Regions from separate parts of the Homo sapiens genome. Here region 2 is linked to region 1. Evidence: fine-mapped expression QTL. A gene starts in region 1. The other region holds a variant in brackets. All regions are shown on one strand. Distances are from middle to middle. Region 1 holds the start of CUBN (cubilin). Region 2 overlaps TRDMT1 (tRNA aspartic acid methyltransferase 1).

Region 1 (5,385 bases):
TATTATGATAAATTTCATCTCTATTGATGTAAAGGCTATTGGATATCTTTTCTTAGCATTTAGTTTAATACCAAATTAATATTTTGTATCATCCTGATATATGAAGACATTTACAAATATAGAAGAGAAATAATTTTAATCAGTTTTATTGTGCTGTAATTTACATCTGCCAAAGATTATCTATTTTAACTATACAGCTTTATGAGTTTTGACAAATTTATACAGTCATGCAACCACAATCACAATCATGATACAGAACATTTTCATCACCCTTAAATATTCCCTCATGCCTCCTTGCGATCAATCTCCTCCCCAACCCCTGGCCTCTGATTTGTTGTCTATCAATCAGTGTAGTTTTGGCTTTTTTAGATTTTCATATGGAATCATGTGATATAGAATCACTTAGGAAGTAGTCTTTTGTGTCTTATTGTTGTCCTTGAAAAATATTTTTAAGCAAGCAAAATGACTTGCCACAGGTTGGCAGAAAAATATTTGCAAAATACGTATTTGAAAATTCTTGTATCTAGAATATATGAGCTCTTACAATCAATAAAAGACAAACAACAAAATTTTAAAAAATAGGCAAAATATCTAAACAGACAGTTCACCGAAGAAGATAAACAAATGGCAAATATACATAAAAAGATGCCCAACATCTTTGGTCATTAGGGAAATATAAATTAAAATTGTAATGAGATACCTATGTTGACACAAAGACCTGTTCACAAATGTTCATAACAGCTTTATTTATAATAGTCCCAAACTGGAAATAACTCAAGTGTTTATCAACTGATGAGTAGAGAAGCAAACTGTGGGATAGCCATATGATGAAATACTACTCAATAATAAAAGGGAACCAATTAATGATATACACTACAGCACAGATGAATTACAAAAGCATTATGTTGAGTGAAAGAAGCAGATACAAGAGACATATAGAAGAAATTGGGAAGGTTTAAAAAAAATTTTTAAAAGCAGTGACTATTTGAGTATCACAAGTAAAGTTTTTTTTTGTTTTGTTTTGTTTTTGAGACGGCATCTCGCTCTGTCCCCCAGGCTGGAGTGCAGTGGCATGATCTCAGCTCACTGCAAGCTCCGCCTCCCGGGTTCACGCCATTCTCCTGCCTCAGCCTCCCGAGTAGCTGGGACTACAGGCGCCCGCCACTAAGCCCGGCTAATTTTTTGTATTTGTAGTAGAGACGGGGTTTCACCACGTTAGCCAGGATGTTCTCGATCTCCTGACCTCGTGATCCGCCCGCCTCGGCCTCCCAAAGTGCTGGGATTACAGGCGTGAGCCACCGCGCCCGGCATAAGTAAAGAATTATAAGCTATGGTACATAATGATCCTCTCCTCAAAGAGCCTACATAAGTAAGACACAAAATAAGTAAAACACAAACAGGCTTGTCCTGAAAGAGCCTGCATGGGTATTAACCAATGCAATGGTAATTACCTAGAGATTTTTCTTAGAAGTGAAATTTTTACAGCTCTCCCTCAAATTCAGTTTTGTCTGTGTGCTCATGGAAAGTCTGAGTGCATCAATAGTTGATTTTACAATCGAAATGTAGAATATTTTCATCACTCTCAGTGGTTTCTGTAGTCCCAGCACAGAGTGAGTGGGGACATCAGTGCTCCATGTCCTCAAACCATATATCCAGCTGGAAGGGTGTATAGCGCAGTGTGGAAAGTGGGAATGGATTCCACAGCCGTCCATAGGTCCCACAGGGATGATAAAAAGTAAAAAGTACAAATTCTTTGTACATTCTGGATATTAACCCATTTTCATATATATATGATTTGCAAATATTTTCTTCCATTCTGGGAGTTGCTTTTTCACTCTGTTGATGTATTTTTTGATGCACAAACGTTTTTAATTTTGATGTATTCCAATTTATATCTTTTGGTTGTCTGTGTGTTTTTCTTTTTTTGCCCATGCTTTTGGTATCATACTCAAGAAATCATTGCCAAATCCAAAATCCAAGGTCATGAATTTTTGTCCTATTCTTCTGAGTTTTATGTTATAGTTTCAGATTTTTTGAACCATTGTGAGTTAATTTTATAGTTTTAGCTCTTAGATTTAGATCTTTGAACTTTTTTGAGTTAATTTTTGCATATGGTATGAGGTAAGCCTCCAACTTCTTTTGCATGTGGATATCTAGTTTTCCTAGCGCTGGGTAAAGGTGGAACTCCTCTGCAAGGGAGGTGAGGAAGGAGGGGAACAGAGAAAGGTGTAGATAATGACCAGTTTACTTTTGTTGAAACCTAGTTACTTCTTAAGCAAAGATTGTTTAAGTGGATGTTTTCAAAGCTGCTTGTTACTGTTTCAAAGGTCAAATAGATAATGATTAAGTTGCGCATCACTTAAGGTAGATTTTGACCTCTCACAAGTTGAAGAGTACTGAAGATCTAAGATCATTTACATCCCTCTGGAAGAAAAAATAACATAGCCTTCTAGGGCAAAGAAGAAAAAACTCAACAGTTACAGGATATTCCATGGTTCAAAGTACACCTGCCTGGTTTGCTGTTCTCCAAAATCCCATGCTCAGTTGGTTGGAGTGGCCTCACTCTTACCTGCCAACCTGGGAGGTTGATGATGAACATGTCTTTACCTTTTCTTTGGAGTTTGCTTACCTTATTAATATTTGCTGAAGTAAATGGCGAAGCTGGAGAACTTGAGCTGCAGAGACAAAAAAGAAGCATCAATCTCCAACAGTAAGTAAACACATGGGTCATTCCTGCTCAGGGACTAGGCTAATTCCTCACCAGTTTTCCCAAATAGCCAGATAAACAAAGGTGCAATTTTTCTTGAGGAAAATTATGTTGAGAAGCAAACAGGGAAAAACATTTAGACTGAGGTATGAAATTACTTTCCTATGCACAAATTATTATCTGTCATTTTGCAAATAATCTGTTTGCAATTGCCAGGAGGTATCTCTGAGAAATGTGCAGAGAAAAAAGTGGCAGATGAGCAGGGGCAGTTGGGTTGAGATGATCAAAAAGTGAAGATGTATTTGGCCTGTAGTTATTCAGTAAGAAACTTTGTTATTTTGGTTTAAAAATTGTACTTGCTAATTACTGATGCATTCTCTCGTTTGAATTATATAGGCCTCGAATGGCTACAGAGAGAGGAAATTTGGTGTTTCTTACGGGGTCTGCTCAAAACATTGAGTTTAGAACCGGATCCCTGGGAAAAATTAAATTAAATGATGAAGATCTCAGTGAGTGTTTACATCAGGTAATACACTGGAAATATATTGAAGTCATTTTGTATATCCATATACGGTGACTTAATTGAACAAGTCTAGATTAATCTGTACCTTGAATCTTTTTTAATTATTATTTTTTATTAATACATAATTTGATACATTCCTATAATGTGTAAAGTTCAAATCAGGGTAATTGGGATATCCATCACCTTAAATATTTACCTTTTCTTCATGCTAAGAACATATGAATTGTTCTCTTCTAGTTATTTTGAAATGTACAATAGATTAATGTTAACTATAGTCACCCTACTGGTCTATCAAACACTAGGTCTTATTTCTTCTATCTAACTATATATTGTATTCATTAATCAACCTGTCTTCAGCCTCCCTCCCCCTTCCTAGTGTACCTTGAATCTTTAGCATAGAGAACATAATTGGGCATCAGACATGTTCTTGTAAAGGACGATGGCCTGGGGTTAATAGTGGGTAGAGGGAGTATGCTAAAAGATAGAAGCTCATTGTGCCAGACAATGCACCCTAGTCCAGAGAAGGCACGGAGGGTGGAACTGAAACTCCTCCACAGGGGATGCGAGGAAGTAGGGGACCAAGGATATGTGGACATGTGACCAGTTTGCTTTTGCCACAGAACAGAATTGGCCAGTTATTCTCCTGCCTTACTGGGTGTTTTCATTTCCCAATAATCACTGCATATTTCAGTCATAATGTTAGAAGTCAGCATTATTCAGAGCTTACTGTGGGCCATCCACTGTGCTTAGCACCGTATGGATGTTATCTCATTTGACCTTCACAGCTGTCCTATGAGGTGGCCTTTATTGTCACCCTAGTTTTACAAGAGGTAAAGAAACCCTGAAGCAGTTAGGTAACTTGCCCAGGACAGCAATAAATAGCTGAGCCAGGACTTAAAACCTAAACAGTCTGCTTCCAAGCCAGGTTTCTTAATAAGCACCCTAAACTGGTATTATAGGAAAACATACAAATGGAAAATACCTTGATCTATTGTTACTGAAAAGGATAAGTGGAATTATGCTGTGGCTATTTTAGCCCAGTGTTTATTACGCATGGTGTTGTTTTGGTTTTTATAATAATAGGCAAGATCTTAGTGCTTAAAGTAGAATACTACTCAAGTTTTTAATTATGTTACTGTAAAGATAAATATGATATTTTCACTAGTGCTCTTCATTTCTTCTTCTTTTTCTAAAATTAGATCCAGAAAAACAAAGAAGATATTATAGAGTTAAAAGGGAGTGCAATTGGTCTGCCTCAAAATATATCTAGTCAAATCTATCAGCTTAATTCCAAGGTAAGTCTGACATCTACGTCATAAGAACCGATGAGTTCTCCCTAGTTCTATTGTATAAGTAACCGTTTTGTAGGGGATATACCAACTTTGTGTGCTCTTTAGAGATTTAGCATGTAACTACTCACTGTTTGGTTAAATGACACAGCTGTAATGGAGGCTGTAGAAGTGATGGACAGAAGGCAGGAAATGCTGTGCAAGCACTTGTTGCAGAAGTAGGCCTTGGGCTGGGAGCAGTGGCTCACTGCAAGTGAATGGATGATTAATATAAAAAACTGCCTGTAATCCCAGCAGTTTGGGAGGCCACAGAGGGAGGGTCGCTTGAGCCTAGGAGTTTGAGACCAGCCTGGGCCACATAGTGAGACTCCGTCTCTACCAAAAAAAAAAAAAAAAAAAAAAATAGCTGGGCATGGTGGCATGAGCCTGTACTCACAGCTACTTGGGAGGCTGAAGTGGGAGGATGGCTTGAGCCAGGGAGGTTGAGACTGCAGTGAGCTATGATCATGCCACTGTGCTCCAGCCCAGGCAACAGAGTGGGACCTTGCCAGAAAAAAAAAAAAAAAAAAAGAAAGAGAGAGAGAGAGACAGAAAGAGAGAGAGAGACAGAGAGAGAGAGAGAAAGAAAGACAGAGTGAAAGAAAGAGAGAGAGAGAAAGAAAGAAAGGAAGAAAGAAAGAAAAGAAGCCTTGCTGAAGTTCTGAGAGCAATCTTCTTATTGGGGAAGTGGATGCATCACTGACATTTATGAACATTTCCATAGTCACTGCCTACAGAGAAGCAATCGGTCAACTTATCAGTGGGTTGTACTTTAAAAAAAAACTTAAAAAAACCCCAGAAATCTATGTGATAGGAGGGAATAGGAA
Region 2 (5,385 bases), 37 kb before region 1:
TTTTGATATGATTTTAATGAGCCCTCCCTGCCAGCCATTCACAAGGTATGTGTCATAAATATTTCAGTGTTGTATTGGTCCATTTTCATGCTGCTGATAAAGACATACCTGAGACTGGGCAATTTACAAAAGAAAGAGGTTTACTAGACTTACAGTTCCATGTGGCTAGGGAAACCTCACAATCATGGCGGAAGGCAAGGAGGAACAAGTCACGGGCAGCAGGTAAAGAGAGAGATGTTGTGCAGGGAAACTGCCCTTTATAGAACCATCTGATCTCATGAGACTTATTCACTGTCACAAGAACAGCACAGCAGAGACCTGCCCCCATGATTCCGTTACCTCCCACCGGGTCCGTCCCACAACACGTGGAAATTCAAGATGAGATTTGGATGGGGACACAGCCAAACCATATCAAGTGTAGAGAAAGTGCTTTTGAAGGACTTACTAAATCAGATCATACTGTAGTGTCAAACATGGACACTCTGAAGTTTATTAGCTGCATTTCATAGTTCGGAAATTTTTTCATAAATCCTTCTATCTACTTATGTATGTATTTATTTATTTTTAAATAATAATAATTATTGGGACAGGGTCTTGCTCTGTCACCCAGGCTGCAGTGCAGTGGCATGATCACAGCTCCCTGCAGCCTCAATCTCCCAGGTTCAAGCAATCCTCCTGCCTCAGCCTCCTGAGTAGCTGGGACTAAAGGTATGTACTTCCATGCCCAGCTAATTTTTAAATTTTTGGTAGAGATGGCGTCTCACTATGTTGCCACGGCTGGCCTAAAAGCCCTGGGCTCAAGCTATCCTCCCACCTCGACCTCCCAAAGTGCTGGGATTATACACGGAGCCACCATGCCCAGCCTCCATTCATATTTATAATTAAGCATTAATCACAAAGGAAATAGCAGTTGCTACCAGATGAGCAAATTAATTTGGTCAAAAGTAGATATGCAAGACTGTAGGATACCTCTTTTATACTTACCTAAGACACAATGTTTATTTCCAGCCCAAAGTACCTTAATTCATTTAAACTAATGAGCATTCAAGAATATCTTTCTAATACTGATTAAGCAAAGTGAATTTCCACAATAAATATTCAAGTCCTAAATTGCTTAATTGTACAATTTAAAAGCTAGTTAAGCATGCACTTGTGAACTTTACATTTCTTAAAATTCATATGTACATTGAATAATTCTGACTTTTCATAGCAACGTTATAAACTCTTCATTTAAAAAATTATATATATGTGTGTATATATATATTTGGCTATATGTTTCAGGAAATTATATCTTCGACCAAATCTTGACTAATTGATTTTCATTTAGATATTTTTAATAAGAGTATTTTGGATTATTTTAAATGAAAATAGCAGTAGTAATCCTCTAAGTGTCTGTGTCTTATGCAGAGGATGTCATTTAATTTAACAAGCTTATGGGGTAGCCATTGCTGTTACAATGATTTTACAGATGAGAAACTGGGGCATAGAAAGGTTAACTTTCTCAAGGATATACAATTAAAGAATGTCAGAGCCAAGATTTGTTAATCATTTTATATATTCCATGATTTTAAGTAGAATATCATATGTAATAACCAGTCTAATTCAGTGAATGAATATTCTAATGCCAAATTTCCATCTACATTTGGATTTATTTAAACAATTCTCTAGGAAATGAATTTCCCAAGGATTTGTGGTTCACCTACAAGCCAGGCATTATTTTTGATGCTGTAGTTCCTGTCCTTTGGGAGCTCATAGTCTAATGGGAATGGCTGACAAATAATTATCTTATAATGTTATCTTAAATTATCTTATAAGCTATATAATAAAAGAATGCTGAAAGTGTCACAGGAGTACAGAGGAGAAAAGGGCTTGCTGCATACCAAGAGAAGGGAATTCTTTCAGAGGTGATGTCTGAACTGTGTCTGGAGGTAGATTAGGAGTATATCAGAGCAGGCAGAGGCCATTCCATCTCAGGGTGGCTCTAGGCACGTGCAAGAGTGTGGCCTGTGGAGTACAGTGAGCAGGATATACACAGCGGAATGCAGCTCCAGCTCTGTGAAGCCTCAGGTAATACTGCAGAGGGCCCCGTAGCTTTCCTACTCCCACCTCCCCCTTGTCTTAGCACAGCTCCAGCTGCTGATGGCAGGAGTAACTGATTCTGTAGTCCTCATGTGAAAGTCTGACAGGAAAGGACAAATAAGAACTGAAGATTTCTGAGAAGTCTGTTCACATCCAGTCTAATCCCA[C/T]AGCTGAACCTCAGATCCACTGATGGTTTTGGTCCTGCCATCAGGTATGAGGAAACTGACCAATGATGCCAGCTAACTTATTTAAGACTCTGAAGATAAATAGCATGCTTTTTTTTTATTATTATACTTTAAGTTTTAGGGTACATGTGCACAACGTGCATGTTTGTTACATATGTATACGTGTGCCATGTTGGTGTGCTGCACCCATTAACTCATCATTTACATTAGGTATATCTCCTAATGCTATCCCTCCTCCCTCCCCCCACCCCACAACAGGCCCCGGTGTGTGATGTTCCCCGTCCTGTGTCCATGTGTTCTGATTGTTCAATTCCCACCTATGAGTGAGAACTTGCGGTGTTTGGTTTTTTGTCCTTGTGATAGTTTGCTGAGAATGATGGTTTCCAGCTTCATCCATGTCCCTACAAAGGACATGAACTCATCCTTTTTATGGCTGCATAGTATTCCATGGTGTATATGTGCCACATTTTCTTAATCTAGTCTATCATTGTTGGACACTTGGGTTGGTTCCAAGTCTTTGCTATTGTGAATAGTGCCACAATAAACATACGTGTGCATGTGTCTTTATAGCAGCACGATTTATAATCCTTTGGGTATATACCCAGTAATGGGATGGCAGGGTCAAATGGTATTTCTAGTTCTAGATCCCTGAGGAATCCCCACACTGACTTCCACAATGGTTGAACTAGTTTACAGTCCCACCAACAGTGTAAAAGTGTTCCTATTTCTCCACATCCTCTCCAGCACCTGTTGTTTCCTGAGTTTTTAATGATTGCCATTCTAACTGGTGTGAGATGGTATCTCATTGTAGTTTTGATTTGCATTTCTCTGATGGCCAGTGATGATGAGCATTTTTTCATGTGTCTTTTGGCTGCATAAATGTCTTCTTTTGAGAAGTGTCTGTTCATATCCTTTGCTCACTTTTTGATGGGGTTTTTTGTTTTTTTCTTGTAAATTTGTTTTGAGTTCATTGTAGATTCTGGATATTAGCCCTTTGTCAGATGAGTAGATTGCAAAAATTTTCTCCCATTCTGTAGGTTGCCTGTTCATTCTGATGGTAGTTTCTTTTGCTGTGCAGAAGCTCTTTAGTTTAATTAGATCCCATTTGTCAATTTTGGCTTTTGTTGCCATTGCTTTTGGTGTTTTAGACATAAAGTCCTTGCCCATGCCTATGTCCTGAATGGTATTGCCTAGGTTTTCTTCTAGGGTTTTATGGTTTTAGGTCTAACATTTAAGTCTTTAATCCATCTTGAATTAATTTTAGTATAAGGTGTAAGGAAGGGATCCAGTTTCAGCTTTCTACATATGGCTAGCCAGTTTTGCCAGCACCATTTATTAAATAGGGAATCCTTTCCCCATTTCTTGTTTTTGTCAGGTTTGTCAAAGATCAGATAGTTGTAGATAAGTGGCATTATTTCTGAGGGCTCTGTTCTGTTCCATTGATCTATATCTCTGTTTTGGTACCAGTACCATGCTGTTTTGGTTACTGTAGCCTTGTAGTATAGTTTCAAGTCAGGTAGCGTGATGCCTCCAGCTTCGTTCTTTTGGCTTAGGATTGACTTGGCAATGTGGGCTCTTTTTTGGTTCCATATGAACTTTAAATTGGTTTTTTCCAATTCTGTGAAGAAAATCATTGGTAGCTTGATGGGGATGGCATTGAATCTATAAATTACCTTGGGCAATGTGGCCATTTTCACAATATTGATTCTTCCTATCCCTGAGCATGGAATGTTCTTCCATTTGTTTGTATCCTCTTTTATGTCATTGAGCAGTGATTGGTAGATCTTCTTGAAGAGGTCCTTCACATCCCTTGTAAGTTGGATTCCTAGGTATTTTATTCTCTTTGAAGCAATTGTGAATGGGAGTTCACTCATGATTTGGCTCTCTGTTTGTCTTTTATTGGTGTATAAGAATGCTTGTGATTTTTGCACATTGATTTTGTATCCTGAGACTTTGCTGAAGTTGCTTGTCAGCTTAAGGAGATTTTGGGCCGAGATGATGGGTTTTTCTAGATATACAATCATGTCATCTGCAAACAGGGACAATTTGACTTCCTCTTTTCCTAACTGAATGCCCTTTATTTCTTTCTCCTGCCTGATTGCCCTGGCCAGAACTTCCAACACTATGTTGAATAGAAGTGATGAGAGAGGGCATCCCTGTCTTGTGCCAGTTTTCAAAGGGAATGCTTCCAGTTTTTGCCCATTCGGTATGATATTGGCTGTGGGTTTGTCATAGATAGCTCTTATTATTTTGAGATATGTCCCATCAATACCTAATTTATTGAGAGTTTTTAGCATGAAGGGTTGTTGAGTTTTGTCAAAGGTCTTTTCTGCATTTATTGAGATAATCATGTGGTTTTTGTCGTTGGTTCTGTTTATATGCTGGATTACATTTATTGATTTGCTTGTGTTGAACCAGCCTTGCATCCCAGGGATGAAGCCCACTTGATCATGGTGGATAAGCTTTTTGATGTGCTGCTGGATTCGGTTTGCCAGTATTTTATTGTGGATTTTTGCATCGATGTTCATCAGGGATATTGGTCTAAAATTCTCTTTTTTTGTTGTGTCTCTGCCAGGCTTTGGTATCAGGATGATGCTGGCCTTATAAAATGAGTTAGGGAGGATTCCCTCTTTTTCTATTGATTGGAATAGTTTCAGAAGGAATGGTACCAGCTTCTCTTTGTACCTCTGGTAGAATTTGGCTGTGAATCTGTCTGGTCCTGGACTTTTTTTTGGTTGGTAAGCTATTAATTATTGCCTCAATTTCAAAGCCTGTTGTTGGTCTATTCAGAGATTCAACTTCTTCCTGGTTTAGTCTTGGGAGGGTGTATGTGTCGAGGAATTTATCCATTTCTTCTAGATTTTCTAGTTTATTTGTGTAGAGGTGTTTATAGTATTCTGTGATGGTAGTTTGTATTTCTGTGGGGTCGGTGGTGATATCCCCTTTATCATTTTTTATTGCATCTATTTGATTCTTCTCTCTTCTTTATTAGTCTTGCTAGCGGTCTATCAATTTTGTTGATCTTTTCAAAAAACCAGCTCCTGGATTCATTGATTTTTTGAAGGGTTTTTTGTGTCTCTATTTCCTTCAGTTCTACTCTGATCTTAGTTATTTCTTGCCT

The links. PIP is the estimated chance that this variant, and not a neighbour inherited with it, causes the effect.
Region 2: its variant is fine-mapped to the expression of CUBN in unexposed skin (GTEx, PIP 0.92).

Annotation. Positions count from the first base shown.
Region 1 is chr10:17,126,969-17,132,353 of GRCh38, reverse strand. CUBN (cubilin) reads left to right here and starts at 2,543. Exons shown (of 67, transcript NM_001081.4): 1 at 2,543-2,710; 2 at 3,104-3,233; 3 at 4,430-4,525. The coding sequence starts at 2,589.
Region 2 is chr10:17,163,501-17,168,885 of GRCh38, reverse strand. TRDMT1 (tRNA aspartic acid methyltransferase 1) reads left to right here. Exons shown (of 11, transcript NM_004412.7): 3 at 1-45. Among named protein-coding and RNA genes, the nearest start is that of TRDMT1, 35 kb to the left of the region's middle. The variant C/T (reference allele first, on the strand shown) is at 2,247.